3 separate regions of the Homo sapiens genome follow, and all the other regions are linked to region 3. The links come from fine-mapping of genetic effects on gene expression. A gene starts in region 3. Each other region holds a variant in brackets. All regions are shown on one strand. Distances are from middle to middle. Region 1 overlaps ZMIZ1-AS1 (ZMIZ1 antisense RNA 1). Region 2 overlaps ZMIZ1-AS1 (ZMIZ1 antisense RNA 1). Region 3 holds the start of ZMIZ1-AS1 (ZMIZ1 antisense RNA 1).

Evidence for each region.
Region 1: its variant is fine-mapped to the expression of ZMIZ1-AS1 in fibroblasts (GTEx, PIP above 0.99). The same link has a PIP of 0.9 or more in thyroid.
Region 2: its variant is fine-mapped to the expression of ZMIZ1-AS1 in sigmoid colon (GTEx, PIP 0.91).

What each region holds. Positions count from the first base shown.
Region 1 is chr10:78,973,144-78,983,112 of GRCh38, forward strand. All of the region lies in intron 5 of ZMIZ1-AS1 (ZMIZ1 antisense RNA 1), which reads right to left. Among named protein-coding and RNA genes, the nearest start is that of ZMIZ1-AS1, 89 kb to the right of the region's middle. RefSeq lists silencers at 232-351, 392-461, 632-1,121, 9,118-9,309 and enhancers at 1,503-1,552, 6,878-7,378, 7,379-7,879, 8,359-8,438. The variant A/C (reference allele first, on the strand shown) is at 4,792.
Region 2 is chr10:79,040,039-79,050,007 of GRCh38, forward strand. It overlaps ZMIZ1-AS1 (ZMIZ1 antisense RNA 1), which reads right to left. Exons shown (of 10, transcript NR_024431.2): 5 at 8,736-8,894. Among named protein-coding and RNA genes, the nearest start is that of ZMIZ1-AS1, 22 kb to the right of the region's middle. RefSeq lists enhancers at 7,017-8,216, 8,329-8,388, 8,824-9,506 and a silencer at 7,032-7,091. The variant C/T (reference allele first, on the strand shown) is at 4,255.
Region 3 is chr10:79,062,308-79,072,276 of GRCh38, forward strand. It overlaps ZMIZ1-AS1 (ZMIZ1 antisense RNA 1), which reads right to left and starts at 5,141. Exons shown (of 10, transcript NR_024431.2): 1 at 5,081-5,141; 2 at 4,141-4,279; 3 at 3,440-3,512. ZMIZ1 (zinc finger MIZ-type containing 1) reads left to right here and starts at 6,659. Exons shown (of 25, transcript NM_020338.4): 1 at 6,659-6,963. RefSeq lists silencers at 4,700-4,909, 4,950-4,999, 5,100-5,309, 6,110-6,179, 6,440-7,419, enhancers at 5,573-6,418, 7,620-7,669 and a cis regulatory region at 6,292-6,977.

The DNA.
Region 1 (9,969 bases), 89 kb before region 3:
ACACACGGGTCACTAGCACACGTGTAACCCCCACTCCAGACAAACACCATATGCAGAAGACACACATGCCATATATACACATCCTCGCAGTGTCCCTGTGTCACGCGGAAAAAGCCACGCCTACACAACTCAGCAGACACACACTGGCATTCCCAGAGGATGAGCCCACACAGGCGCCGCAAGCCCGCCGCAGGTCCCGCATGCACTGCCTGTCTGTGACAGATGGCTTCTGTCCAACCCAAGGGTCCGGCCCACAGCCCTCGGCTCACACGGCCATACAAGTCTGGGGACATCATGTCACGCTCGCTTACTCTAAGGGCCCTGAGGCTTGTGAGGGCTGTGGTCAAAGACAGGCCTGGGAACTGGGGTCCTGAGCACCCTAGCCCAGCCCAGTCCCGCCCCGCGGAGGGGCCCGACTGAGCTGGGCCGCGCGCCCCAGCAGCCCCAGCAGCCGCCGCCCACCTCGGCCAGCCTGGCTTCTGCGCCCCGCCAGGAGGTCGCGGAGCGGAGCGCGGCCAGGAAGTGAGCTGAGAGTGACAGCTCCCCCCACGCTGTTTGTTTATTCATGACTCATTCTCTCCACACACTGGCTCTTCTTTCTTTCGGGAGGAGGGGAGAAAGGAGCGGGAGGGCGGGCGGGCAGGGGAGAGGCAGGCTCCACAATAAACAATGAGGCAGCTGAGCCGGTGGGGAGGGAGGAGCCCGCGCGGGGCGCAGGGCCGGGGCTGGGGCCGGGGCGCGGTGTTTCCAGGCCGGCCGGCCCGAGGCTTGCGCTCCCGATCCCCGATCCCCGATCCCCGATCCCCGCTCCTCCCGGCCCCGCCCGGCCCAGCCCGGCCCGGCCCGCCCGCCGCCACCTCCCGGCGACCGGGCAGTAGCAGCCGTAATTGGATCCTCGCTGCCTCCTCCCAGCTCCCCGCCCCCAATCGGGGAGCGGGTAAATGCCGGGTACCTTGGCAAAACAGTCGGATCCAAACCTATTATTTGACTAATGGGCTTCCCTCGTGCGGCTCCGCAACGCCCTGCAGACTCGCCCCTCCCCCCTGCCCCCTCCCCAGAGATGGCTCCCCTCAGCGGCGCGGCTCCGGATAACTGGAGGAAGCGCGGGTTCCGAGGCTTCAAGGGCCTCATTGTTCTGCCTGGAGGGGCACATTGAAAATGCTCCAGGGTTTACTTCCTGTGAAAACAGCCTGGGAGGGAGGGGGCGATCCACGGTGGAAAGACATTATCCTCCTGGAAGCCGCCCAGATTACACAGGGAGAAAAAGGTTGTTTTGATTGTTGCTGGCTCTTTCTTTCTTCCTTCCTTTTTCTTTCTTTTTCCTTTTTTTCCCCTTCCCTCCTCTCTTTTGCTACCCTCCCCGGGCCAAAGATGAATCTTTACTGCTGTGGAGCAAGTTGGAAATGTGGGGCTGTTTTCTGCATAAATAAGGCTGGTGAATGGCAGAGCCAGATATAAAGTCTGATTCAGAGAAATTCAAAAGAATGCAGGGGCGATGAGGTGGGCAAATCCAAGAAACTCATTTCCCCAGCATGCCCCTCTGAGTCACGTCTTGCACCATGAGGGGAAAACACATCACGCCACAATATGTCACATGCCTGCCGCAAAGGAGCAGGCCCGGTGGGAGTCACACAGCTCCTTCCTCCCCAGCCTGGCTCTGCAAGTCCAGAACCACAGAGAGCAAAGTGTCAGCCGGGAAGAGGCGAGGGTCGGTCCCACCAGGCTCCAGGTCAAAGCCTTCTCCTAAGTGAGCTGGGGCAGGAATAGTACTATAGCAGCAGCGCACCCTTGCACAGCGCCCACTAGGTGCAGGGGCCTGTTCTGCGTGCTTTCCATATATTCCCTCATTTAATCCTCACCACGACCCTGCAAAGCAGGTGCTTTTACTCTCCTCTTTTCCAGGTTAGGAAGCTGAGCCCAGAAAGGTTAAGGAATTGCCGAAAGCCACACAGCTGGTGAGCAGGGAAGCCAACCCAGCAGGCTGGCTGCGGGGTCCACGAGCTTGGCCACTGCACTGACACTTCCCAGCTTCCTCAGACTTGTTATTGGAAAGTGGAGACAGTGACACCAGCCTCAATGGGAGCTCAGGAGGGTGCATTAGGAAAATCCAGGCAAACTGTTCAGGACAGCACTAAGCATTAGCTCATGTTGATGGTGCTATTGTTTTCAAATAAACTGGACCCATAAGAACAATTCCTTCCTAACTCACAGGGTTGTCTTGAGGGTTAGGAGAGACCAATTCAAGAGGCCGTCCCCAGGGCAATGCCTGGCCCTCGGCAGGTGCCCGTGGATATTGGTTTTCTTCTGCTTTCTCTGCCTCCTTTTCCCATCCCTTCTCACTCAACCTGAAGATTCTTGTCTTGAGATTTTCCCATGTACCACCCAGCAGAGTAACCATACAGGCACCTCTCCCAAGATCCTCAGCCCCACTGCCGTTCCTGTCAAACTGGGTGGAACTCTACATGGGCCCAGAGTGCCAGCCTTACGCGGGCCTGCCCTGACCACTATGCGGCGACTTCAAAGTGGCTCCCCCAGCCCCTGCCCCCTCCACCTGCACAACTCCATTTGGCTCCGTTCAGCTTGTTCTTTTGGCCACAGCCTCATGGCCCTCTAACACACTCTACAATTCACCTCTGACCGTATTTGTGATGTTTTCTGTCCCCCACCTCCTCCAGCTAGAGTGTAAGACCCACAAGAGTGAGGATTGCCACTTTGTTCACTGATGCATCCCAAGCATAGGAAGCCCCAGTGAGTGTCTGCGGAACGAATGAATTCCCGCTTGTTGACCACTCTTCCCTGCCCGTTGCCTCCTGTATTCACCAGAGAAACTCCCACTCATCCTACAGACCCCTGCCTCTTGGAAACCCTGCCCCATGCCACCCACCCCTGCTTCCTTGCTGACAGCTCACAGTGCACCCTCCTTTAGTCATATCCCTTGTCACTGCGCTTTGCCTCACCGACCTTCCTTCCCAGACCTCCCCACTGGCCCTTCTGGGACCCCACTTCCTTTAAGAGCACCCCCTCTGTCCTCAGCCTTGTGATGGAGGCTTTGCCGCTGGTGACCCATCTCCTCTATCCTCTCTGGGGCGGCTGTTTCTGTTCCTACATCTCACTCCCTTGTGTGGTTCCCAAGATCCCCACATCCCTTTCACATCCCTAGGGGTGTTTCCAGACTGTGAGGCCATCAGACCCTTTCTTTTTTTTTTTTTTTTTGAGAGACAGGGTCTTGCCATGTTGCCCAGGCTGGTCTCGAACTCCTAGGCTCAAGTGATCTGCCCACCTCAGCCTCCCAAAGTGCTGAGTTTACAGACATGAGCCACTGCACCCTGCCCTAGAATGGGATTTTTTTTTCTCATTTAGGGTTCATGCCTCCTGATTCTACTACTTTCCCCTCTCTCCCAACCTCTTGGATCCCACCTTCCTAGCCAGCATCTTTTGCTCCTGAACTACCCAGCCTCAGGTCGCTGCCTCTCCTTCCCTGTCCAAGGTCTGCCAGCAGCTGATGGCCTTCAGCATCCATGTGGGTGACCCATCCAATACCTGGACTCCCCGGACCTCCAGCACCCTTCTCCAGGGACCCTCTAGCCTACTCAAGTCCAGCCCCCAATCCCAGGCCACCACTCGAAACTGCTTTTCCTCTTCCATCTTAACCCCAACATCTCTTCTTTCCCTCTGACCACATTCTCCAACTGCTCCAATGGTTTGGTCATCAGAATGACCCTCTCACCAGCACCCCTGATTTCTTAGTACCCCCATCCTTCCCTTCATCCGCCCAGCCAGACTTAACAGGGGCCAACCCAACCACACTCTTTACACGGCAAGCTTAGGCTGGCAAGGGCCCACAGCATGAAGATTTGGCGCCAGTGTCAACATGAGGTCTCCAGTCTCAACTGCACCGTGGACATGAACCCAAAGTCCTCTGCCTGCTTGCCGGCCTCCCATTTCCCTCATGGGTTCTTTGTCTCACTGACCTTCACCCTTCTCCCTCTGCCAACCTCAATTCCCAGAGACACTTGGCTTCGTCAAAATATGAAGGCCCTTTGGTGGGACCTGCTGCCCCTGCCCTGCCTCCAAACACAGCCCCACACCCATCCTGAGTATCCTCTGTCCAGAATCAGAGGGTAAGGAAGGTCTCTCTTCAGCCTGCCAGCCCACCCTTGCAGTGAGGTGCTGGGCAGGCCCGCTCTGGAACCTCGCCCATCTCTCCCTGGCCTACAGCATGTCCCTCTCTACCAAGACTTCCTGCTCTCACCAGGCCTCTGCATGTGCTCACATCTCTCCCATCCTAAGGAGATCTTCCCTAATCTCTGCCTCTCCCTGGCAGGCCACTTGCTGTCCTCTTCTTGTGGGATACTTTACTGCATTCAGTGCAGTCCCCCACATCCTCACACTTAACAGCTGTGTCCTCCCCGGGACCACGTGACATCACCATTTCTGCTAGCCTCCTACCTCTCTGACCATCCCTCCTCTCCTGCGGGTGCCCCTTCCTCCACCCACTCACTAGAGGCCAAGGATGGCAGGGAGAGATCCCTTCTTCCCTCTGTGGGTCTTCCTGGACCGTCTCACCACCCCTGTGGTTCCCCCACTGCTGTGGGCTTATCCTTTCCAGACGTACACGTCTGGCTCAGCCTCTCCTGCCCTCCAGACCCTGGGTTTCCAGCTGCCTCCTGGGGTTCTGTGGCCACCTTAACACCTCATAGGCACCTCAGACTCACCATGTCTCAACCTGAGATTGGCCTTGAGTTTCCAAGTCGGCTCCACTCCCGGAATTCCTCAGGGCTGGGTTGCACC[A/C]CTGCTCAGCCCCAGGACAAGGCCACCTTGACTCCTCCCTCTCATCCCACACACATCCCATCAGTCTCTGGGTCCCAACAACTTGACCTCCTAAATGTTTCTCAACCCGTCCCTCTCCCTGTCCCGCTACCACAGCCCAAGGTCAAGCCCTCATCATCTCCTGTCTGGGTTATTGCAACAGCCTCCCCTGCCTCATGCCTCTGCTCACTGAGTCAGCTGCCACACTGCTGCCAGGGTCACCACTTAAAATGCAAATCCAAACAAGCCGCTCTCCAGCTTTAGAACCTGTAAGATGAAATCAAACTGCTAAGGGTGGCCCACCGGCAGACCCAGTGCCCCACTGAGCCTCCAGAATCCTCTCCCTCCACCCTGGGCTGGGGTGTGTGTTATCACAGCACAAGGCAATAATCACTTCACACAGCTTCATGCCTCCCTGGTTTTGTTCACGCTGTTTCATCTGCTGACAGCACTCTGCCCCATTTTCAGTCTGCTTAATTCTCTCGTCTTTCAAGACTGATCTCAGGCGCCTCCTCTTCCAGAAAGCCTCCACTGACTACCCCTCCTCCCACCTGAGGCTGATGCTGTGCTAGGGGATAAGATCATTCTGTTCAAAGTACTTGTTTAGGCCAGTGCGGTGGCTCACGCCTGTAATCCCAGCACTTTGGGAGGCTGAGGCAGGTGGATCACCTGAGGTCAGGAATTCAAGACCAGCCTGGCCAACATGGTGAAACCGCATCTCTACTAAAAATACAAAAAATTAGCCTGTAATCCCAGCTACTCAGGAGGCTGAGGCAGGAGAATTGCTTGAACCCAGGAGGTGGAGGTTGCAGTGAGCCGAGATCCTGCCACTGCACTCCAGCCTGGGAAACAAGAGCGAAACTCCATCTCAAAAAAAAAAAAAAAAAACAGTGCTTGTCGAGATGGGTGTCTTCTCCATAAAGTGTAGGATTCTGTTTTGATATCCATACCCTCAACACCCAGAACTGACTAGGTGCTCAGGAGAAATAGGTGGAGGTAAGAAAGATGCCTGGCACTCAGTGGATACCCAGCTCATGCCCAGCTATCCTCTCCAGCCGTGCTCCAAGCGGAGCCTAAGGGTGGCTCCTCCTTCCATACTTAGGAAATCTTGAAAGTATTGGCCGGGCACAGTGGCTCACGATTGTAATCCCAGCACTCTGGGAGGCTGAGCTGGGTAGATCACCTGAGATCAGGAGTTCAAGACAAGCCTGGCCAACATGGTGAAACCCCATCTCTACTAAAAATACAAAAATTACCCAGGCATGGTGGCACACGCCTGTAATCCCAGATACTCAGGAGGCTGAGGCAGGAGAATTGCTTGAACTCAGGAGGTGAAGGTTGCAGCGAGCCAAAATCGGGCCACTGCGCTCCAGCCTGGGCAACAGAGCAAGACTCCATCTCAAAAAAAAAAAAAGTATTGTGTTGCCTTCCACCCTTTCCAGCGGATGGGTGGCTGAACTGGGCACACCATACAGCATTTAAAATGAGCAGTGTACAATTTTTGGCCAAATCTAAGCCAGATCTTCCCCAGCAGCTCTGTCCCAGCTTTGCATCGGTGTCTGTCACTGAAGCTCCCTTTCTTCCAGCTCTATCTCAACTCCAGCACCTCCCCTCCAAGCTCTCCCTGACTCAGTTTAGTCCCCATACATAGAACCAAGCTGGGGCCGGGAAAAAATGCACCCACCAGGAAGCAAGAAGCACGGTTCTACTCCCGGTTCTGCCATTGACCCCCAGTGTGATCTGAGTTGATGCATCCCACATGGGGCCTCAGTTTCTCCCTTATACTTATAGAGTTATAAGTATCCCCCTTATTCTTACAGAGTTAAGAATAGAACCAGAGTACCCTTTGGGACTTTAAGATCTACATAGAGAATTCCTGGAGGCTATGAATGAGGGTGCAGCCTCGACGTCACCAAGGCGCTCGTGAGATGATTGTGCCCCCATCCATAGGGACCCCATAGACACAGCCTCCTCTCTGCTCTCTATGCATTTTGCTTTTCACCTCCAGCCACAAGGCAACTCTGGTTGTTAAAAATAAAAACAGCCCAGAGCCGCCAGATCCAGGGATGACAACTCTTCTAAACCAAGGGAGGGGGTGCTGTTTTTGTTACAGTCACTGAGCTTGACTCTAATCCAGGAAAATCAAATCGAGACATGACTTGGCCCCTCCGAGCTGGTTTGACCCCAGAGATGTGGGTCAATCCTTGCTGTGGTGGCATCTGAGTATTTCATGCCAACATCACAGAGCAAGAGACAGGAGCACGGTTTATGCGTACTGGGACAGTCAGTGAGATTCGGTGAAGGACATGAGGTACCTAGGCAGCACTGGGCTTCAGGCTGGCACCGGGGAAGGACAGACAGGAGGCAACCCCCTCCTTGGTCAGCCCCAAGAGCATCAGCTGTGCCCCGAGTCGGGGGACTCAGAACATTTAGAGAAAACTCCACAGAGGAGGCAAAATTTGAAAAAAGGGAGAGGAGCTACGACGGCATCAAGAAGGGGCAAGGCATGCCTTTGACCGTGTCACTCCTGCAAAAAGCCTTCCTTGGCTCCCCGCTGTCAAGTGGATGAAGTCCAGACTCCTCAGCTGGCAGGCAAAGGCCTTCCCATGCTGACCCCAGGGTGACCTCTTCCCTCCAGCATCCCTGGGCTCCCCATTCTGTCTCACCCTTCCTCACACACCCTGGGTGTCAGCCTGGGTGGCCACATATGCCAGGCTCTGTTGCTCTCCAGTGGCTTTGCACATGCCATCTGCAGAGAATGAAACGCCCTTCCCACCGCTCGCTGCCCCATCTTGACTTCATCTTCATGGAAAATCCCTTCGTGCTCTTTCAGTCCCACCTCCAGTGACCCTTCTCCACGGAACCTGCCTCAACTCACCCAGCTGGAGTTGAACCATTTGTCCTCCGCTTCTGCAGAGCAGCCCTTTATGTTCAGACAAACAAACAAATAAACAAAGATGTGCTCCACCAGACAAAAATAATCCCTATCCACTAAGAAACATGTTGCTGCCCAGCTTTCGCAATTGCTGTCTCACTTGATTCTCACACTCTGTGGGGTAGGAAGGAAAAGAGTAGCATTGGCTACAGTTCATGATGAGGCACCTGAGGCTCAGAAACCTCGGGGCACTCAGTCATGGTCACTCAGTCACTTGCTAGCATTGAAGAGATCGGCTCTAGATTCTTGACTCTAGAAGGGAAGACACCCAGTTCTGACTTGGTTTGCCCATCTGTCTACCGTACCTCCCTGTCTTCTCAAGGGAACCCCTCATTCCTTGAAGGGGGGGGCCTCATCCAAATCACATGGTGTCCCCTAGAGCACCTAGCTCAGTGCTCAGCACACAGTAGGTCTGATGGTTTCCCAACAAAGAAGTGGAGTCTGAGCAGTGCTGGGGGAGAGGATGTGCAGAGGGAAGGTTCCTGCCAACCAGGGTGGTGTGTCTGGGTCAAGAGGAAGAAAAGGTGATGGGCAGACTGGGGTAGGCAGGGTGAGGCCAACCAGGCCATTCAGGCTGATGCATGGGCAATGGGGAGCCATAGGAGGTTGTAGAGAAAGGCCTGCTTCAAAGGGACTCCAAGCCAGAGCCCCAAGGGAAGAGGTGTGGCCATAAGAGGGACTTCCCAACCCAGGCCAGAACCCCACACTTCCCCTAGCTCAGAGGTGGCTGCGGCTCTGCATGCAGACTTAGGAGGACAGCTTCCTCTCCAGGTGAGAGACGTCAGACACAGCTATTGTGAGGGTCTGGGGAGAGACAGGACAGAAGCAGCAGACCCTGGAGTAGCAGCCTGAATGCACCTCTCCCGGGGGCTTCCCAGGGTTAGAAAAGGCCTGGCTCTCCAGGAGGCTGGGAACAGAAGAGAGAGTGGAGAGTGCCAGGAGTCCCCCAGCCCCAGGCCCTGCAGGAGGGAGGAGAGCTCTCTGCCACCTCAGCCCAGCCCTGCTCCGGGGAGCGCTCCACACACCACCAGCAGACAAGTCTCCAGACAGTGCTCGTGTGTCAGCATTTCTGAAGATGTGGAGGAGAAGTCTGTGGATTTAATGGGACAGCAGTCTGCAAGGAGAACCAACAGGATGGGATGGGGAAGGAGATGCCTCCGCAGGGCAGATGGACAGCAGCCTGGGCACCCAGCCACAGCCATGCAGGGAGCTCTCAGCAGGCCACATTCCTCACATGCTGCAGGGAGGTGGCGCGTCAGGGCAGAGAGGGCTGCACTTGCCTGTCCCGGTCACTAGCACCACATATAGAGTGTGGCTCCTGAGAGGGGGCCCAGGCACAGCCACAGCCAAGAAACTTGCCAAGGGAACATGCTCCAGTTCCCACATGGACCCACATGGACTCTCCACGGCCAGTGGCACAGTCTGCCCCCTGCCTGGGCTTCCCGGACCCTACACATTTGACCCCAGGGCCCCTCACCCCATCATCTCTCAGGCTTCCTAGATGTCTTCCTAGATCTCCACCTCTAGCCCTTACACAGATCATTTCCCCAACTTGGACCAGGTGGCCAGGTGAAATACTGGGTGCTCAGTTAGCTTTGGATTTTAGGTTAACAATGAGTGTTTAGTATAAGTATGTCCCATACAACACGGGAGATACTATACTACAAATGTATTCATTCTTTACCCGAAATTCACCGGGGCATCCTGTATTTTTATTTTCCTAAATCTGGTAACTCCAATGTCAATGCCCCAATCCCTCAACGCCGCCTTTAGTGACAGGCATTCTTCCTTCCATCTAGAGGGTAGGCCCTGTTGGCTTTGCCTTCTGAGGGCCTCTGTCTTCCATTCTGTTCCAGTTTCTCTGTTGCTGTATACTAAACTACTCTACAACTTAGTGACTGATAATGAAAACGATTTTATTCTATCTTGAGATTTGTGTTGATCAGGAATTCACACAGGGTTCAGCCGGGTAAATCTTCCAGTCCCTATGGCGTGCATGGGTGCTACTCAAGTACTATTCAGCTGGTGGATGGGCCCTTCTGAAAGCCCTGTGTTGGCTTCACTCGCATGTCTGGCATCATGATGGGGACGCCTGGAAGGCAGAGCTCCACTGAAACTGTCCTCCAGAGCACCTGTCACGTGGCAGCCTTGGGGTAACTGGATTCCATGGGGGCTCAAGGCTTCCACATGGAGTGTTCCAAGGATCCCAAGCAACCTGTGTGCTT
Region 2 (9,969 bases), 22 kb before region 3:
AAATAATATTATAAACAACTTTAAGATCACAACTTTGGCACCTCAAATAAACGAGACAAATTCATTTAACAATAGAAATTATTGGCTGGGCACGGTGGCTCATGCCTATAATCCCAGCACTTTGGGAGGCAGAGGTGGGCAGATCACTTAAGGTCACAAATTTGAGACCAGCCTGGCCAACATGGTGAAACCCCGTCTCTACTAAAAATACAAAAATTAGCCAGGTGTGGTGGCACATGCCTGTAATCCCAGCTACTCAGGAGGTTGAGGCAGGAGAATTGCTTGAACCGGGGAGGCGGAGGTTGCAGTGAGCCAAGATCGTGCCATTGCACTCCAACCTGGGTGACAGAGCAAGACTCCATCTCAAAAAACAAACAAACAAACAAACAAATTATCAAGATTGGCGTAAGAAAAACAAAACAAATAGCTCCATATTTATTACAGAAATGTAACTCACAAAACCTTCCCTAAAAGAAACTCCAAGCCCATATATATCTATAGTGAATTTTATCAAATATTTAAGTAGAAAATAATACCAAACACAAATTCTTTCAAACCATAGAGGATGGAATACTTCCCAAGTTGTTTCACAAGCTCAGCAGTACTGTGCTTAATAACACCAGGCAAACACAATATAAGAAGACTACAAACCAATGAAAAATCTCAGCAGACTCTTTTAAAAAACAGACATCAACAAACTGATCCTAAAATTTATATGAAAATGAAAAGGACTTCCTAGAATACCCAAAACACTTTTTAAAAAATAACATATTTGGAGAACTTATGCTTCTTGATTTCAGGATTTACTACACAGCTACAGTAGTCAATAGAGTATGGTATTGGTATAAGGAAAGATATATGGATCAATGGAACAGAAGAAAGTCCCCAAGTAGCGGGACTATGCAACTGATTTTTTACAAAAGTGATAAGGTTATTCAGTGGGCAAAGAATTATATTTGTAAGAAAAGACATGAAAACAAAAAAATACCAGACTTCCAGTTTCTATTCCAGCATGTAAGGAGCTTGGGAATCATCGCTGTCATCCTCACAATAAGAAAACAGCTAAACAAACTGAAAACCAACAACTCTTCTTAGATTCATCAGAGAATTGAGGCCATGGGGCAAACTAATGCCTCCAAAACTGGAGAGATAGACAAGTGAAAACAGAGAATTACAACTTATCAGAGCAGAAACCCATCAGTAGAACCCTCTGTGGGAACTAGTACCAGATTACTTTTACCTGGTACATCAGATCTAGCTTCAACAACAATTTATAAGGCACACAAAAAGGAAAAAAATACAGCAAAGGCATAACAAGCACCAGACCTAGACACAAATACGACAGGGATATTGGAATTATCAGACCAGAACTTTAAAGCAAGTATGAAGTATGATTAATATGCTAAGGTCTCTAAGGGAAAAAGTAGACAACGTGTAACAACAGATGGGTGATATAAGCAGAGAGATACAAATTCTAATAAAGAATCAAAAAGAAATGCTAGGAATTAAAAACATTGTAACAGAAATTAAGAATGCCTTTGATAGGCTCATTAGCAGACTGGACACAGCAGAGGAAAGAATTTGTAAGTTTGAGGATATGACAATAGAACTTTCAAAACTAGAAAGCAAAGAGCAAAAAAGGCTGAAAGCAATTGAACAGAATATCCAAGCAGGACTACAAAAGGTATAATATGTGTATAATAGTAATGTCAAAAGAAGAAGAAAGAAAGGAACAGAAGAAATATTTGAAGTAATAATGACTGACAATTTCCCAAAATTAAAGTCAGATACCAAACCACAGATCCAGGAAGCACAGAGAACAGTGAGTAGGATAAATTCCAAAAAATCCACACCTAGGACTGTCTATTCAAACTGCAGAAAATCAAAGATAAAGAAAAATTTTGAAAGAAGGCAGAAGAAAAAAAAAACAAAACTCTTATCTATTGAAGAGCAAAGAAGGTAAGAATTACACCAGACTTCTCAGAAACCATTCACACACACAAAAAAAACAGAGTAGATTGAAATATTTAAACTGTTGAGAGAGAAACAAAATAAACAAACCAAAAAACCCATCAACCTAGAATTCTATATGCTGCCAAATTATCTTTCAAAAGTAAATACTTTCTCAGACAAGCAAAATTTGAGTGAATTTGTTGCCAGTATACATGCCTTGCAGAAAATGTTAAAATAAGTTCTTTAGAGAGAAGGAAAATGATACAGGTCAGACACTCAGATCTACATAAAGAAAGAATGCATAGAAGGATAAATGGAGGTAAAAAAAAAAAGCAACTTTTTCTTAATTGATACAACAGATAACAGTTTGTTCAAAATAACAGCAACAATGTATTCAATGATTATAGTTTATGGGTTGGTAAAATGAAAGACAGCAATGTTACAAGGGAAGAGAGAGAGGGGAAGGAATACTTTGTTATTACAAGGTACATGCATTGCCCATGAAACAGTGCAGTGTTATTTGAAAATGGAATTGGATTAGCTGTAAATGTATATTGCAAACTCCAGGGCAACCACTAAGAAAAGAAAAAAAAAAAGTATAATGATATGCTAAGAAAGAAGATAACATAGAATCATATAAAATGCCTGATTAAAACCACAAACAGCAGAAAAAGAGTGGAAAGCAAAACCAAGAATGAAAAACAAGGGCAATAACAGAAAACAGTAACAAATATGATAGAGAAAGCAAATGGATATCTATATGGACCTCAATTCCACCTCACATCATTCATAAAAAGGAACTCAAAACAGACGATATATCTGAACACAAAAGCTAAAACTATAAAACATCTAGAAGAAAACTGCAGAGAAAATATCTGCAGCCTTGTTGGCAGGCAAAGTTTCCTTAAACAAGTCATGTCAAGCACTAACTAGACAAGCAAAAACTGATCAATCAGACTTTTACTCTTCAAAAGATACAATTAGGAAAATGAAAAGGCAAGATACCAACTGGGAAAATATTTTGCAACACAGATATCTGACAAAGCACTTGTGTCAAGAATTCATATGAAGAATTCTTAGAACTCAATAAGAAGACAAACAACCAGTAAAACTAGGCAAAAGATTCAAACAGGTGCTTTGCCAAAAAAGGCATATGCACATAACCAGATGATCAACATTTTCAACATTACTAGTTGTCGTGGAATTGCAAATTAAAGCAACAGTTGCCATTACATACTCACTAGAATTGCTCAAAGACCGATGATACCAAGTGTTGACAAGATATGGAACAAATGGAACTCTTATACACTCCTGGTGGCTAAAATGGTGCAAACACTTTGGAAAAGAATTTGGCAATTTCTTATATAGTAAAACATATACTTACCCTGACAATACAACAATACCAGTTCCAGGCATTAGCCCAAGGTAAATGAAAACATGTTCACATGAATGTTCATAGCAGCTTTATTCATAAAATCCCCAAACTGGAAATAACCCAAATTCTATCAATTGGTGAACAGATAAACAAATTGTGGAATGTCCATTCTCCAGAATACTACCCAGCAATGCAAAGGGCCGAACTACTCATGCAAGATACAACATGCATGGCACTACACAGAAAGTACATACTGCCTAATCACAATTTATAGGACATTCTAGAACATGCAAAACTAATCGATATTGATAAAATCAAATCAAATGTTGCCTGAGGCAGGAAGAGGGATTGATCAGGAAGGGGTATGAGGAGATTTTGAGGGGTGATGGAAATGTGTGATATCTTGGGTGTGGCAGTGTTTACACCACTGTACACACCTGTTAAAATTCACTGAACTGTACAGTGAAAATGGGTGCATTTTGTAAATTGTTTCTCAATAACACTGATTTATATATATATATGAGTGGTTGGAAGAATAAATTCAGTATTTTCTTTAACAACCAAAACTGCTTAAGTACTACTTGTGAGCCAGGGAAGAAGGTAGGAACTTTCTCAGAGAACCCAGGAGAACTGGGTGCTAGCCTGGCACCGCCCCTATCTCCCAGGGTGGGCTTGGACAAATCACTAAGAATACAGTCAAAGGTGCAGGTCCAGGACCAAAAGCAAGGCCCTCTGTTGGGTGGGGGAGATATGTGAGTGACGGTTACAGCAGGCACCCTGAGGGGGCACCTGCAAGACGGAACAATGGCCAGTGGGCTGGGAAGTCCAGAAAGCCTTCCCCAAGGAGGAGACTTGTGCTGGCACTGCAGAATGAACAGGAGAGCACTGGGATTTACAAGTAAGTGGGGTATTCAGCCCCAGGGGAA[C/T]AGCATGTGCCTGGGAACAAGGGCAAGAAGGGCCATGCACTGAAGCTCTCTGCTTGCAGAGCTGTTAGCGCAAACACCTGCTTCTGGGGGCCCCAGGGAAACCATCTGGAGCAGATGCTCCCAGAGACCAGGATGCTGACCCCTACTTCCCACAGACCAGGTACCACCTCCTCCAGAAAGCCATCCATGACTGCATCTGAGACTGTCAGACCAGGAGAGGCTGCAAAGAGACATTGTATGAAAGACCAAAAGCAAGACATTTCATTTCATTGTTGGATGGATGGGAGTCCATGAGAGAAAATGCTTCAGAGAGCATCTTGCACGGGGCCGAGCCTTCAGTAAATGCTGGTTTCCTTAACGATCAGAAGGAATGGGCTTCATTATCCCCATTTTATGCCGGGGAAAATGGAGGGGCTAAGAAAACCTAAGTGGTGGGCCTGAGGGGGCACGGCTTGTGAGTGGGGAGCTGAAGTGTCTCATTTCTCTACCCTTGCCCACATCCCAGGACCATATGACTTCACAACAGGAAAACCAAGGCCCAGCGAGGGCAAGTGACTGTCCAAGGTCACACAGTCACTGTCAGAACTCAGACTTGACCCCAGTCTCCTGATGCCAATGCTGACCCCTCCCAATGAGCCTCAGCCTGGGACGTCACTCTGAGGCCCAGACTCCAAGGGGTGAAGGAGCCCCCAGCAAGGCCTGGCTCTGCCTGCTGCCACCTTTGGGAGCAGTACACAGCTTTAGAAGGCCCACGGCAGGCTCTGCAGCTGAGCAGGGGCTGTGGGAAGGTGGTGAGGAGGGCCAGGACTTCTCCACACTGAGTGGAGGGCCTGGAGCCAGGTGCAGCTGGCCCTAAGCTGAAGGAGGAGGGATGAGGGATGGGAAGTGGGCAGCTCGGACCAGGAGGAGGGCAGCTTGGTGTCTCCAAGGCCCCACATGGAGCCCTTCACGTTGCAGCTGTGCCACTCCCCCCATTGTGCCTTCTGTTCCCCAAATGCGGTGGTCTTGCTGATCCAGAAGATATAAAAAAGGAAAAACTACACACGCTTTGACATCAACAAATCAGGGTTCTTGTCCCTGATCCACCAGTTCCAGGAAAGATGTCTTTAGACAATCAGAAATTCTCTAAGCCTCAATTTCCTCCTCTGTGCAATGGAGCTAATAGTACTATTACTGGAGCATAATGCTATACTCCCCATAAAAATCAGTCTTGATTTTCCTTTCTAGAAACGTAATTCTGACAACCCACTATTGTTGAGCTTTGATCCCCCAGCCTCACTCAGGAAGGCAGGAGGCTCCTCAGTACTCTGGAAGGAGAAGCAGGGCCTTCAATCTCTACTTTGTCTTGGAGACTGCTGAGGCTCTTGTGGTCTGAGATGTGTGACCCTGATGTCCTGTGGTGCCCTGCTTCGCCAGGCCAAAGTTAGAGCCGAGGGTAGGTAAGGAAATGCAAAGCCTGGTCAGCAGGGGACCCTGGTATTAAAATCTATCAAATTCCTCCTGCAAGGAACGCTCCTCTGAGGCGAGTGGGGCAAGTGGGTGCATGCAGCACAGCTCTGCGTCTGATGCACAGGGCTACTGGGAGGACAAAAAGAGAACCATGTGGGAGGCGCCTGCCCAATGCTGGCCCACAGAACGGCCCTCCAATTGCCGGCACCCAAATCCTTTGGTCCCTGCAATCCCATGAGGCAGGCACTGCAAGAAATAAAGAGGCCCAGAGAGGATCAGAGCCTTGGAGAAGGACATGCAGCAAAGCAGGTGCCCAGGGCATGTGGCACAGCACTCCTCCCCCTGCCCCAGAGACTGCCATCACCCTATCACCCAGGGAAAGAGTAAAGCTCGTAGGCCAGGTGCAGTGGCTGACCCCTGTGATCCCAGCACTTTGGGAGGTCGAGGTGGGCAGATCACTTGAGCTCAGGAGTTTGAGACCAGACTGGTTAACATCGTGAAACCCCCATCTCTACTAAAAATACCACACACGCACACACACAAATCAGCCAGGCTGTGGTGATGCATGCCTGTAATCCCATATAATAGGGAGGCTGAGGCAGGAGATTGCCTGAATCTGGAAGGCAGAGGGTGTGGCGAGCCGAGATCATGCCACTGCACTCTAGACTGTACAGCAGAGCAAGACTTCATCTCAAAAAAAAAAAAAAAAAAAAGAGTAAAGCTGGTGCATTCTCAGGGTGTCTGGCTGCCAGCCTTGTAGGTGACGCAGGTCCCAATGAGAGTTACAATTAGATCTCACTGGAGACGTATTTCTATTACCAGGGCTGAGCACGTGAGCCATGCAGCAGCGTCCCTTCTTTCGTTCGAGAGACTCTGCCCTGGCTGGAAGTTGAGTAAGGAAGCCTGGGATCTCGCCCTGGGCCTTAGTTTACTTGTCTGGGAAATGGTTATGGTGGCTGCAGTGTGGACTGTGAGACTCAACCCTTCCTTTTCCCTGCTGTTAAAAATCCTTTTGAAGAATAAGGTGGCCCCACCCTCTATATCTCCATCCAACAAATTTGGAAAAGGGGGAAACAGTAGAAGTTCTTCTTTCCTGGCCTCCTTGACCACTACTGTGGGTTATTCCCAGGAAACCCACACAGGTCATGGAGGACGTTCATCTTTAAGAAGACCTGTGCCATGTCAGAGCGACATGTGTCAGAGGAATTACTCACTTGACAAAGAAGGTGCTTTTGTCAGAGGAGGAGGTGGCCCTCGGAGTTCCCTGACATCATACATCAGAGCCCCCCTCCCGTGTTCCTGCCCTAAGGGTCCCAAGGTAAGAGACAGACCTGGGAGGTGTGAGTCCTACACACAGCCCCAGTGCCCTGGTCTGAGGTAAAGGCTGGAGCGAGCTGGCTCAAGGGCTGGGGTTAGCACTAGGCAGCTTGAAACAAGAGCCTGGGAGAGTCCAGTGGGTGGAGGTCAGTGGGAAATGAAACTGCAGTTCTCAGCAGGGCCTGCCACAACCACCACTCTCAGACAAGGGGCTACCCTGGGCATGGGGAGGAAGGCACTCCTCCCCTACACTGGGCTGCTGGAGGAGTCCAGGGGCCGGGATCTCTGTCCTGGGCAGGAGCCAGGCCAGGCCAGCTGAGACAGTCTCCCTCCATGACTCTTGCTCCTGGTGGGAGGTGGGTGGCCTTATTTTTCTGAAAAGGAAGTCAAAGCCTCCTTTGTTGGCCTCCCAGCCTCCACCTCTCCCCTGCAGCTCCTCCACCTCTCCCCTGAGCCCTCCTCCCTTCTGCTGCCTATAGAATCCTTTTAGAACATGGCCTCCATCACACTCTCCCTTGTTTACCCACCTACAGTAGCTCCCCATTGCTTCAGCAGGTCTCCCAGACGCGACTCAAGACTGAAACCTTCATTAAGGATGCAGGAGCCCCAGTCCCCGGTCTCACAGCCTCCAGAGTCTACTGGCTCTTGGGGACTTCTCTGTGCTTCTTATTTGATAGTTAAGCCATTTGATGCTCAGAGAGGCTAAGTAACTTGTTCAAGGTCACACAGCAGGAGGACTTGAAATTCAAATCCAGCCTACAGAGCTCAAGCCCTGTCCACAGAAGGGCCAACGGCCCAGGACAGATGCTTCAGGAAGCTGTGTTCCTTAGCTGGGTCGAGCCTGCCCTGTGTGGGTAAGAAAAATGGTAGGGTGGGAGCTTTGAAGACAGTGCCATGCCACTGGCAGAGCCCAGACCACAAATCCATAGGCTTGGACCCTGGCAACCTTGGCCGAGCCTCAGCTGTCTCCTGTGGAAAATGGAAAACAAAACCCCTGACCTCCCAGGTTTCTGCAGGAGTGTGGCTGGACGGTGGGTGAACCAGCCCAGCCCTGAGCAGGGTGCACAGGAGGTTTTCCTTCCACGTTCCTGGCTTTTGCACAGGATCCAGAGGCCCAGGGTCGTGGGTGCAGCCTCCACCAACCCCAAATCCAGCAGGGACCCAGTTGCCACCCACACCCATGCCACACCCATGCCCACACCCACGGTGAGGCTTTGCAGGCCCAGTAAACAACCCCTTGCCCTCCTCCCCAGAAGGAAACTTTTTTAAAGCAACAGAAACAAACTTCTCTGTGTGCTGTGTGTGTTGGTGACAGGAAAAGGAACATCACTTCAGAGAGGAAAAGGCCACCGGGGTTGGGGGCAGGGCCAGGCAGAAGCAGCCAGAGGAGAGAAACAGAAACGGAGATCTGATAAGGGCGCCCTGCTCATCTGGGCTGGGGACAAGCGCTGCAAGGCTGGGGCCCTGGCACTGGGGTGGGGAGGGGGTGGCGGCTCAGCCCCTCCTCAGCCCCTCCAACCGCTGAGCTGGGGGTGTGGGTCTGAGGTGGCCTGGGGTGGCTCGGCAAGGCTCCCCTCCTTTGGGGCAGGCCATTTCACTGGGTGTCTGCCCCCCACCCTGGATGGTGGGGAAGAGAAGTAAGGGCCTGGATTTGGGAACCAGCCAGGGGCTCTCAGGTTGGTGGTTTCCTTTCCCCAGCTTTGCTGCTGACTTACCCATGGTCTTGAGCCAGTCTCTCCCGCTCTGGGCTTCAGTGCTGCCCAGGTGACGGTGTTGACCATCTATGATGACACTGTCAGGACACAATGCTGAGTTGGTAATCTGGAGGTTCAGGGTGGTGGGCTTGCTGTGCGGCTCTGAGCAAGTGGCTTCAGCTAGGGTGAACAGGGCATTCCAGCTTAGCACTGAAAGTCCCGCATCCCAGGAAACCGCCCCCCGCCCCTCCCCTACCTCGTTCCTGGGCAAACTGTGCTGGTTGGCCACCCTTCAGCCTCTGGGCCGAGACTTCCTGGATGAGCCTGTACAGGTCTTTGCCAGCTCACTGCATGGCCCCCTCCAGGACTGAGGGTCGGACTTGCCTTCCTGGACAGACTTTGAGCCTGACTGGTGGGACAGGACAGACACCTGTCCTGGTGAACCCAGGCTGCTTCTGGGACAGGCAGGCTGCATGAGCAGGTATTACAAATTGGGACCAGAGTGGGAACAGATAGAGGCGCTGGGGCAGGGGAGGAGACTTGGAGAGAGTGGTCCCAAGGGCCTGGACCTGAGGGGAGGGGTCTGATCAGCAGAGAAGAGCAGAGAACTACATTCCAGGGGAAGCCACAGATTGGGCAAAGCCTGGGAGGCCAGGTGGTAGGGCACGCGACGCCAAGCCCTGTGCTGAGCATCAGCTAGATGGCAGGCCCCAAATGGACTTCCAGGGCCTCTCAGTTGAATTTCTAAATCCACTGTCTCCACTCTCTGAATTCCTCTGGCCGTGTCCACTGCCAAACAATTTGCACCAAAAACAAACACATAAAAAAGAAAAACCCAACAAACAAGTTTCCGCCCCCCCCCTCCCGCAAATAAAGATAGACTTTGCTGGCTCGGCGCAGTGGCTCACGCCTGTAATCCCAGCACTTTGGGAGGCCAGGCAAGCAGATCATGAGGTCAGGAGTTCGAGACCAGCCTGGCCAACATGGTGAAACTCTGTCTCTACTAAAAACACAAGAAAATTAGCTGGGCATGGTGGCGGACGCCTGTAATCCCAGCTACTCAGGAGGCTGAGGCAGGAGAATTGCTTGAACCCAGGAGGCAGAGGTTGCAGTGAGCCAAGATCTCACCACTGCACTCCAGCCTGGGCGACAGAGGCAGACTCCAGATTCCGTCTCAAAAAAACAAAAAAAGATAGACTTTTCCCAGAAACTAAAAGCCCCCAAGATGGGGCTCTGAAAGTGGATGGCTATGCTC
Region 3 (9,969 bases):
TGGTGAAACCCCATCTCTACTAAAAACACAAAAAATTAGCCGGGTATGGTGGCATAGTCCCAGCTACTCGGGAGGCTGAGGCAGGAGAATGGTGTGAACCTGGGAGGCGGAGCTTGCAGTGAGCCGAGATCTCACCACTGCACACTCCAGCCTGGGCGACAGAGCAAAACTCTGTCTCAAGAAAAAAAAAAAAAAAAAAGAATGGCATTTGGTGTGGGCAGTCCTTCCTGAGAGACTGTGAGCCCCCAGAGGGCTGGTTCTGGTCATCCTCCATCCTGTGGGCCTCTATACCTCCCCTGCTCCGGATGGCCTGTCAGCCCCCAAGGCCTTGCACTGGGTGATGGGATGTAGCAGTGAGCCATCCTATGACCTGCAGCCTTGACAGAAGAGGGCCATGTAACACAATACCTCCCTAGCCTGTGAGGTGTCATACTAGGAAATGAAACTCCCTGTGCCTCAGTTTCCTCATCTGTAAAATGAGAATACTAATAGCTCAGAGGATGGGAGGAGTTCATGTGTATGAGCTACTCAATGCCTGGAACATAGCAGGAACTTCACAAGTAATTCCTATGGTTATGCTGATGTTGGAGGCTGGGAGAGCAGCATATGGGGGTTAAGACAAGGAAGACGGCACATCTGGTGGAGGTATCAGGGTAGGCTTCCAAGCAAGTGGTTGCAGATGTGGCCTTGGTGACTGGGAGGGGTGTGTCCCAGGAGGTAGGAAGAGCATGAGCAATGGCACAGAGGTAAGAGTATGTACATAATGCTGGCAATTCTGGAAGTCACCCTGCATGGCCACAGGATGAGGTGAGGGCAAGGAAGCATGAGTCTTGAGGCTGGAGGACTGCACAGCCAGAAGGAGGAGAGATGCTGAGGATCTGAGACCTTCCCCCACCCCTCTCGGGGTGCAGGAGCTATCAGGAAGGAAGTGGGAGGCATGGTCCTCCTCAGGTCGCTTGTCCCAGACTTCCTCATCAGTGCCGCATGTACTTGCTCCTCTGGAGGGGCCCTGACGCAGGTGAGGGGACACTGCATGAGGAGATGTGGCTCTTGCACCCCCTCTTGTCCCCCCACCGAGTTGCTGGGACTACAGGCATGTGCCACCATGCCTGGCTGAGACCTGGCTCTTGTTCCAGCTCTGGTGCTTCCCAGTGGTGCAGTCAGGGAAAGCCATCACCTCCTTTTGGGGCTCAGCTTAGTCACCCACAAAAGGGCTGTTGTGAGGCTCAGAGGGTGAGAGGTGCCTCATGAAGGGAGGCGTTAGGGTCATTACCTATTCACAGTCCTAGATAGTCACAGTTCTGAGCAGCTCCCTCCAGGTATTTTCTTGTCCCTACTCCACTAAATGGCCCCCTCTGAAAGCCCTCCCTAAAGCAGGGCCGCCCTCAAACTCTAAAGTGAACTGTAGCTCAGTCCAAGGGTTAAAGGCTCAGACCTACAGAATCTTAGGACAATCAGAGGCAAAAGTGCTGGTGGATATCCCACACTCTCTCACTTGGCAGATGGGGAACAGGCACAGGGAGAGTTTGTGATGTGCTCAGGCCACACAGCAAGTCAGGCAATGGCGGGCTGGGCACATAGGTGTCCCGGCTCCTGAGGCAGGCTCCCAGCCTATTCTCTTGTGACTCCCATCTGAAGAAGGGGTTGGTGGTTGAACTGGGTCTCGAACCATAGGGCAGAACTCCATGGTAGAAAGTGAGAAGACGGCTGGCTTGAGGGAAGGACATTGGAGAGTCAAGCCTTGGAGGATGGGAAGGTGTGGGCTCAGAGAATGGAGGGGCCATCTGATTGGAAATGAGGGGGAGGCAGAGCAGGGGAGCCTAATTCGCTGAAGGACATAGATCTTCCCTGCTTGACCCAACCACTCACCTCTTAGAGGCACAGGGCTCAGAGCTGGGCAGGGCCCAAATGCTTCCTGTATCCACCAAGGGGTGAACTCTAAATGTAATCTCCATTACCTCACTGCCATGGGAGGCACCCTGGTCATTCCCTGGCAAGTGGGTGAGAGTCTTTACTTCACCCCAAAGTACCTGGTAGGTTACCTTATCTGCACCATAACCTGGCAGTGAGATGAGGGCAAGTCCCTATTCTCAACCTCAAGGCCCAGCCCAACCTGGAGCCCAATCTCGGCTCCACCCACTTAGCAGCTCTGAGATCTTTATTGTTTTGTTTCGTTTTTATGAGACAGGGTCATGCCCTGTTGCCCAGTCTGGAGTGCAGTGGCACAATCATGGCTCACTACAGCCTCAGCCTCCCAGGATCAAGTGATCCTCCGACCTCAGCTTCCCAAATAGCTGGGACTACAGGTATGTGCCACCATGCCTGGTTAATTTTTGTATTTTTTGTAGAGGCAAGGTCTTGCTATGTTGCCCAGGCTGGTCTCGAACTCCTGAGCTCAAGTGATCTACCCTGCCTTGGCCTCCTAAAGTGCACAGATTACAGGCATGAGCCACCATGCTCAGCCAGCTATGAGATCTTGAGCAGGTCACTTAACCTCTCTGAGCCTCTTCCCTTAGCAGGGAATGACACCTGGCTTGTGGAGAGAATACAACGAATGTTTCCAAAGTGCGTGGCATACAGTAAGTACTCAATGAATGAGATTTTCTTCCCACCTCTCTAGTCTCAATTTTAGATGTTCCCTGGCTCCCTTAAGTTCCAGAAGTGAGAGGTGGAGAGTGGGGACAGAGAAGGCAGCTCCTGGACAGGTGGGAATCCCCACTGTGTACCCGCCCCCATCCCAGCCCAGCCTAGGAGGCCATACTCGCCGCACCCTACACAAGTCCTTTGCTTCCCTCAGGGACCTCAAGCCTCCCACCCCCACCATCCTGCTGGCCTCCAGATTTTCTGCCTCCTGAAACCTGGGCCCAGGCCCCAGCAATGGTCCTCTCCCCAATCTGCTGGTGGCTCCCACAGGACAGGGAAATTAACAGCACTTGAGTGTGCTCTGAAGGTTGGTACAACCTGGCGGCCCCACACTGCCCATGCCCTCCTAGTGGAGCCAGGTGACTTCTGGGCCTGCAGGGGCTGAGCAGGATGCATCTTCCAGCTCTGGGCCACGAGGAAGTGATGGCACTGTCCTCTCTTGTCTCACCAGCAGATCTCCAGGCCCAGTGAGGCTGAGACTTTGGGGGTGAGGTTGTTGGACACACAGTTCCCAGTGAGTCCTGATGGCACCATGGACCTTACAGGGGCTCAGAGGGGGAAAGCAGCTTGCTTGGGGCTACACAGTCTATGGATGAACAGAGCCAGGGCTGAGGGGACAACAGGAAACTCTGTTCATGGGGGCCCGAGTTCCCATCCTGACCAATCTTGGGCAAGTCATTCACAGTTGAGTTTCCTCTGAAAGGGGGATGGTAGCGGCACCTAACTTAAGACAATGTGACAGTTCAATCAGGGAACTGAATTCTCAATACCTAGGAGGACCCACCACAGTACTCACCACATAGTAGACAGTAAATAAGTCATAGCTTCTTCCAAGACCCCAGAGGTATCCAATCTACCCCATTACCTCCCTGGAAGATGAACAAAGAGAGCAAGGGCCTCAGAGACCCAAGGACTGGAGCCTAGGGAAGACCCAGGACCCTGGTGGGCTTTCTGACTTGCTGCCATGCTTGCACAGAAGGGGAGGGTTGAAATGATCCCTGGTTCCATGCTACTAAGTTGAGCCTACTTGGCTCCTCTGCCCTCTGCAGCCACTTCCTGGGTTTCAGATGTAAATACTGGTGGGAGAGTAGGGGGCTGGGATGTGGGGTAGGGGGTGGAGCTTCTGGACAGGAGACTTTGAACATGAGTGGTCACCTCCGAGGTCACCTGCATCCCCCAATTCCTGGAAGTGGGCAGGCCCTGGATACTTATTGAGGAATCTGGACAGAAAGGTTGAGAGGGCTGGGCGTCCAGACCTAGCTGGTCATTAAGGCAACAAGAACTGGTCTAATTGTGGGCTGGGCTGGATTATCACATCCCAAATCCTTAAATACCCAGAAACTCTCTTTTGGGATTTTGGACCTGGGTATGGGGTGGCTGCTGCCACTGCTGCAATGCTGTGGATTGCTGGGAGTGGGACAGCTGTGGCTGCAGCCACCGTTCTGCAAGCTTAATTCCTACCTTCGGAGGTTTCTCAGGTGGCCCTGGTGTACCTACCTGTGAACTTAGGCCACCCACAGGCTGAGGAGGGGCTCAATCACACAGCAATGTGCTGGGACCATGACTCCCTGGTGTCCCTAGAGGTCTGGAAGTGCTTTCATACCACCCACCCTCTCCAGGGATGCTCAGCTGCCACCTACAGGGAGGGCGGGGGTGGAAGAGCAGCAGTCATCACAGTCCATGTCCATGTGACAGGTAGGAAGACTGAGGCCCCAAAGGAGTGCCTTTTCTTGCACCCAATGGCATAGGGAGGCAGAATTTCCCCTGGGGAAAATAAAATAACGCCCCCACTCCGCCGCCTGCGCCCCCACACACCCCGTCCCCCACGCCCGGGTGGACCTAAGCAGCAGTTTTCTGAGCTTTCAGGAATTCCAGACTGAGTTCACTGGCTGTGAGACTAGCGGAGCCTTGAGAATGAATTCAAAGCTGGCAAATTCATTTTGCCTCCTCTCCCTCGGTGGTGGAAGGAGTGATCTCTCCGGCTCTGAAGGAGTTCAAGCCGAGGTCAGCGAAGCCCTCAGAAGGATGTTCTAAAATGGGGGTGGGGGGTAGTGCTCCGGCCTGCTTCCCCGGTTGGCCCAAGGTCCGCGCTGATCACCGCCCAAGAGGCCCAGGAGACCCGCAAATCTGTGCTGCACGTCCGCACTCCCATGCGGGCCTCGTCAATCAGGAGGCGGCTCCGGCCAGGCCTGGACATCTTCGGCCCGCCCCAGGCCCCGGGGGAGACCCCCGCCTGGGCCGCCTCCGGGTGCCCGCCCCCCGGCGGTGTCATTGTTCTCTGACGTCACGCCTCAGCCCCGCCCCTCTCCCCCCACCCTTCCTCCCCCACCTCCGGCTCCCCGCGCCCCCGACCCTGCAGCCTCCGAAGCCCCGGCCGTGCAAGGCTCCCCCCGCAGCCCGGCCGGGGCTGCGCCCCCTTGCGCTCTCCCCAACTTGCCTTTGTTATTCCAGCTCCCTTCCTCGCCTCGCCTCCGACACGGTGGCAGCCTGCAAAACGTGGAGCGCGGAGTCACTGCCACACCTGGAATCCGAAGCGGGCTCCGCCGGCTCCCGGCCGAAGCCGCCCCCGCCTGCCGGGGAGGGGAGCGCGTGCGTGGGCGGCGCGTGTGTGTCCAAAGAGGGCTGCGCGGGCGCCAATTATGATTGGGACTGGGGGTGCCGAAAATCAGGGGTGGGGGGCCTCGAGGAAGGGGTATGGAAGAGGAAGTGGGAGAGGAGGGCGTGTGTTTGTGTGTGTACGTTAACGTGAGGATTTAGTGCCCAGGGGAACGTTTCGTGTTTTGTTTTTTGATTGTATGTGGGGTTGTGTACAGCGATGTGTGTGTGTAACTGCGTGTCTCTGAGCGTGCCTGCTGTGGCCGTGTAAGCGGGCATCTTTGTGAGGGAAAGTAAGCGAGTGTGTGGGGGCGCGTTTGTGGTTTGGGGGGGAGCGTGTTTGCAATGCTGAGGGAGCGAACGTGTGTGCCGTTCTTGTAGGAGTTTCCGTGAGAGTGGCAGTGGACGTGAGCCAAAGTGGGCGCGTAGTTGGATGCTCTCGGGGGGGGGGGGTGGGTCGGCTAGGGGAACTCCCGCGAGTGGGTGCACCCAACTGCGCCTCGTGAGTACCTTAGCTCTCCGCTATCTCTGGCAGTGCCCAGTCCGGGGCAGAGGGCCAGGCCCCAGCCTAGCAGCTCCCACGCAGCCCGCGCGCACAGCGCCCCGGGCGCTCCGCGCCGGGCCTAGGGGAATCCACGCGTCTCTGGACTGTGCTAGGTGCCGCGGATCAACTGTGGCCACCACACCCCCGCTCCCCCACAGCTGTCGGGGGGCCGCGCTCTAGTCTCCCTCAAAGTCACCCTTGGTGGTGGTGGTCCTCTTCCCACCCCAACCACCAGTCCCCGGGCTGTAGGAACAATTCCAAAGTCAACCCCAGGGGAAGGCTTTGGAGGTCCAGTTACCAACTCGCTTACCCCAATTCGGGTACCTGACAGCGCCCGGGGCCACGAGTGCACTCCAGGCGGGGGCGTGCCAGCGCGGGGCAGGGGCTCTCGGGTGAGCAGTGTGATTTTGGCTTCCTCCCCAAGGTGGTCCCTACCTAGGCTCAGCATTTGTTCCCCTCTCCAAACTTACTGGGGCTGGGGCCTGCAGGGGGGCTGGGGGCTGCAGGGGGCGTCAGGGAGTAGCGGAGGGAGTAGGGCAAGGAGAGAGGTGAGTGGACTGGTGGCGTAGCGGGGAACCAGGAGCCAGGAGAAGAAAAGCTGGGAGAGCGCCGAGACCGAGGAGCGAGGAAGAGAGGAAGAGAAAGGAAAGGAAAGGCGAGGGAGAGAACGAGGAGAGGCGAAAAGGAAAGGGGAAAGAGAGCGCAGAGCGCGAGCCAAGCCGAGCGCCGGCAGCGGCGGCGGCGCGGCGCGGCGCTCCACTCCGGCCTGACTCCGCACCGGCTTTTGCGGGCGGCCGGCGGCGCGGGGCCCTTTGGAAATAGAATAGCCAATGTAATCTGACACTTCAACTTGCTCGGCTCCGGGCGAGTTGATTCACTTACTCACCCCCTAACGCCGAGTTCCTTTTCACTGTCTGTGGACATTAAAAAAGCGAGCGGCGGCGGCGGGCGCCGGGGAGAGCGGGCGGCCGGGCGGCAGGCGGGCGAGCAGCGATCGGGCGGCCGAGCGAGCGAGCAACGCCGGCGCAGCGCGGTGACCCCAGCCCCAGCCGGCGCGGAGCAGGAGCCGGAGCCGAGCGGATCTCGGCGCCCTCGCTGCGCTCCTCCCGGCCCGAGCCTGCCCTACCCGGCGGTGGCGGCGGCGCGTCCTCCAGCGGCGGCAGCGGCGCTCGCAGCGCCCGGTAAGTTTGGGGCCAGAGCCAGGCGCCCGCTGGCTCCGGGGCTACCTCCCGCTCCCCGGGGACTCTCGGGGTGCAAGCGTGGGGATTGGGTGCTGGGGTTTTTCCCTTAAAGTGTCCCCCGGAGCGGGGCGACCGGCCGGCGGCGCGGGCTCCGCTCCGCTCTCCTTGGCGGCCGGGGGCCGAGGCCCGGCGGCCGGCGAGCTCCCGGCTGCGCGGAGCCGGCTTGGGCTGCGCGTGGGGGCCGGGTTTGTCAGGGTGTGCGGGGCGTAAGTGTGGTCGTGCGCGCGCGGACCCGGTGCCCGCCTCCTGCCGGCGCGCCTCCAGCCCTCGCTCCCTACACCCGGGGGCCGGGCAGGACCGGGAATCGGAGGAGGGAGGGAAGGACCGCCTCGGTCTCCTTCGCCTCCTCTGGGGAGATGCGAAGTTGTGCGCCTGTGTGTGTACAGGAACCGCTGGGGAAAGCGCTGGATTTCAGGATGGCAAGGGGTGGTGGTGTTAACTTGTGCGTCTGAATTTCCAGGGAAAACATACACTTTTGTAAATGGGAGGTGGGGGCGCGGTTAAGTTGTTTGTGTGGGAATTGCCCGGGGAAAGCTGGCGCGCGGTACAAACGAGAAACGCGGAGGTGTGTGTGCAGGGTTTTCTCCCAGGGCTTCGCAAGCCAGAGGGGCGCTCAGGCCAGTGCCTGGACGGGGCTGCCCCGGCCAGGAGGGGAGCCCAGGGGGAAGATGTGCGTGTGTGTGCGCGCGCGCGTTGCAAATACGAAAGTAATTTCCCCGTGTTCTTTCTTCCTCTCCGTCTCCGGCGGCGGTGGCCCCGGGGGAGTGGGAGGCCAGCCGGGGCGGAGGTTGGGGGGCCGGGGCTGGAGCCGGGGTCGGGGGGGGGAGGCGGGTTCTGGAAGCTTGCTTCACATTCCTGGCGTCTGGGCTGGGGAAAAAACAGTGGGGAGCGCGGCCTCGGCGTCTAGGGCGCGGGCAGCGGGCGCGCGTCGCCCCCTCGCTGGGGACATCTGTCCAGGAAGCCGGCCGGGCGGGGATAGGGCGCGGTGCGGAGGGCAGGCTCCCCGCCCTGGAGCGGTGGGGGCGCGGGCGAGGGGCGGCCGCCTTCCCGGCCATTGTGCGCCAGCAGATTTTCACGGGAGACTGCCCCGGAGCCGCCGGAGAAGGCCGGGAGCCGGCCTCAGCCCCGGGTTTAAAAGACACTCCAGGAATGTAAACAACCCGGGCGGGAGGGCGGGCGGACGGGAGCGCGCCAGGGCAGCCGGTCCGGGCCCCCCACCCCTCCCCGGGGACAGCCGGTCGGCACTGCCGCCCAGCCCTACCCCTCTACCTGCAGCAAACTTTTTCCTTCTCTGCCTTCCCTTCCCACCTCGTCCCTCCAGCAGGTCACAGAGCGAGGGCCGCTCCCAGGTGGGCCAAGGGTGCTTGGTACCCTTGCCTGACCGGGGAGGCCTGACGGCCGGGTCCCTGCTTCGGTGCCCGGAGCCCCGGCTGCGCCTGCCCGGGAGCCGTCAGCTTCCTGGGTAGGCAGTGCCCGAGTAACTGGGGCTTTGAGCCTGCCCGCCTGCCTCCCTCCCTCCCTCCCTCCCGCTGCTCCTTCCCCCGCGCGCTCTCCCCCTTCTCCTCTCCCCTGACTGCTTTTCCAATGCCCTGACATGAGGGAGGAAGATTTAACTTGGCAGCCCAAACAAATGTTCTCTCAGAGGTCCTCCAAGAAGCTGGCGGCTGGGCTGGCGGGGTGAGGGCACGGCTCGGCCAGCCTTTCCCTCCTCTCTGCTCTGCCACGGACATTTGGAGCCCTCTGGGTGGACAGCCCAGGGCATGGGAGAGTAGGGCCCAGCCCCAAAGATTTAAAAGGGCAGTGGGCGGCCGCCTGTGGAAGCCCCTGGCTCCGCGCCGGGTGCAGAGCCGCTCCGAGCTGCCTCCTGGTGCCAAGGGTTTTCTGAAGGATTTTCTTGAGCAACAGTTTGTCTCCCTGCTGCAACCTGGGAACCGGGCCTGGTAGACCAGAGGGTTAACCAGTGCCGACTCCTCCTCCCTGGTGGGTGTGAGGACAGGCTGGTTACACAGGGCAGGGCAGGAGGCCAGAGGCTGTTCCCAGAGGTGCCTGGGTTTGCTTATTACTGTTTTTGAAGGTACAGATAAAGAGGCAGGCGCCGGGGCTGGAGAGCCGGGCAGCTTGGCGCTGGTGAATTCCAGCCTGCGTTCGCTGGCGCTTGTACGGTCCCGGGAGTGTGAAGCTGCTGTTGAGCTATCGGGGAAGTTGAGATGAGAGAGCAAGCTCTTTCTTAGCCTTCTCAGCCCCGGCTGCTTTGTGAGGGGGTCCAGAGTGGGGGAAATTCCTGGCCCCTCACTTGCTGGCTCCTGGCCCCAGTGCAGGGGCCGGGTGGGTTTGTGAATACCCCAAGCCTTGGGCTGACCTTTCCCTCTTCAAGTCGAGGATGTTGAAACATCAGCATCAAACAAAAGACACATTGAAAGCCCTATCTGCTACAGAGCACGTGTGAGTTGGGGGCCCAGGGAATGCATTTGGAGGGAGATGGTGTTTTCTTCTGAGCTTTATGATTTTCGGTTGGGTTTTGTTTTCCCCCAAAGGACAGAAGCGTCTCCTTGTCCCAAATCACGAGGTTTTGAAACGCTGTTTTCACATGTAAATCTCAAAAGTTTAGACTTCTGAGAGTTGGTGGCAGTGACTGGGGGTGGGGGCTGGGTGGGGGGAGGAGAAGGGAGCAGTAGGGAGTGGATTCAAGAGGTGGATTTGGCATTTTGGGTAGGGCTTACTGAGAAGAGTTGGGAATAAGAAATTGCTGGACTTATGAATAAATAGCCTTGTCTATGCAGAAAAGGGTTGCTGGCTTCTTTGTGGGGACAAAATGTCCCTTTTCCCTCCTAAGCAAAGGGGGGAGGAGGGTTCTTGTTCCTCTCACAGCCAGGGGCAAAATGAAGAAAGGTCCAGAGACTGCGGGGTTTGGCGACAGAACCAGTTTCTCCCTCACGCACGCGCGCA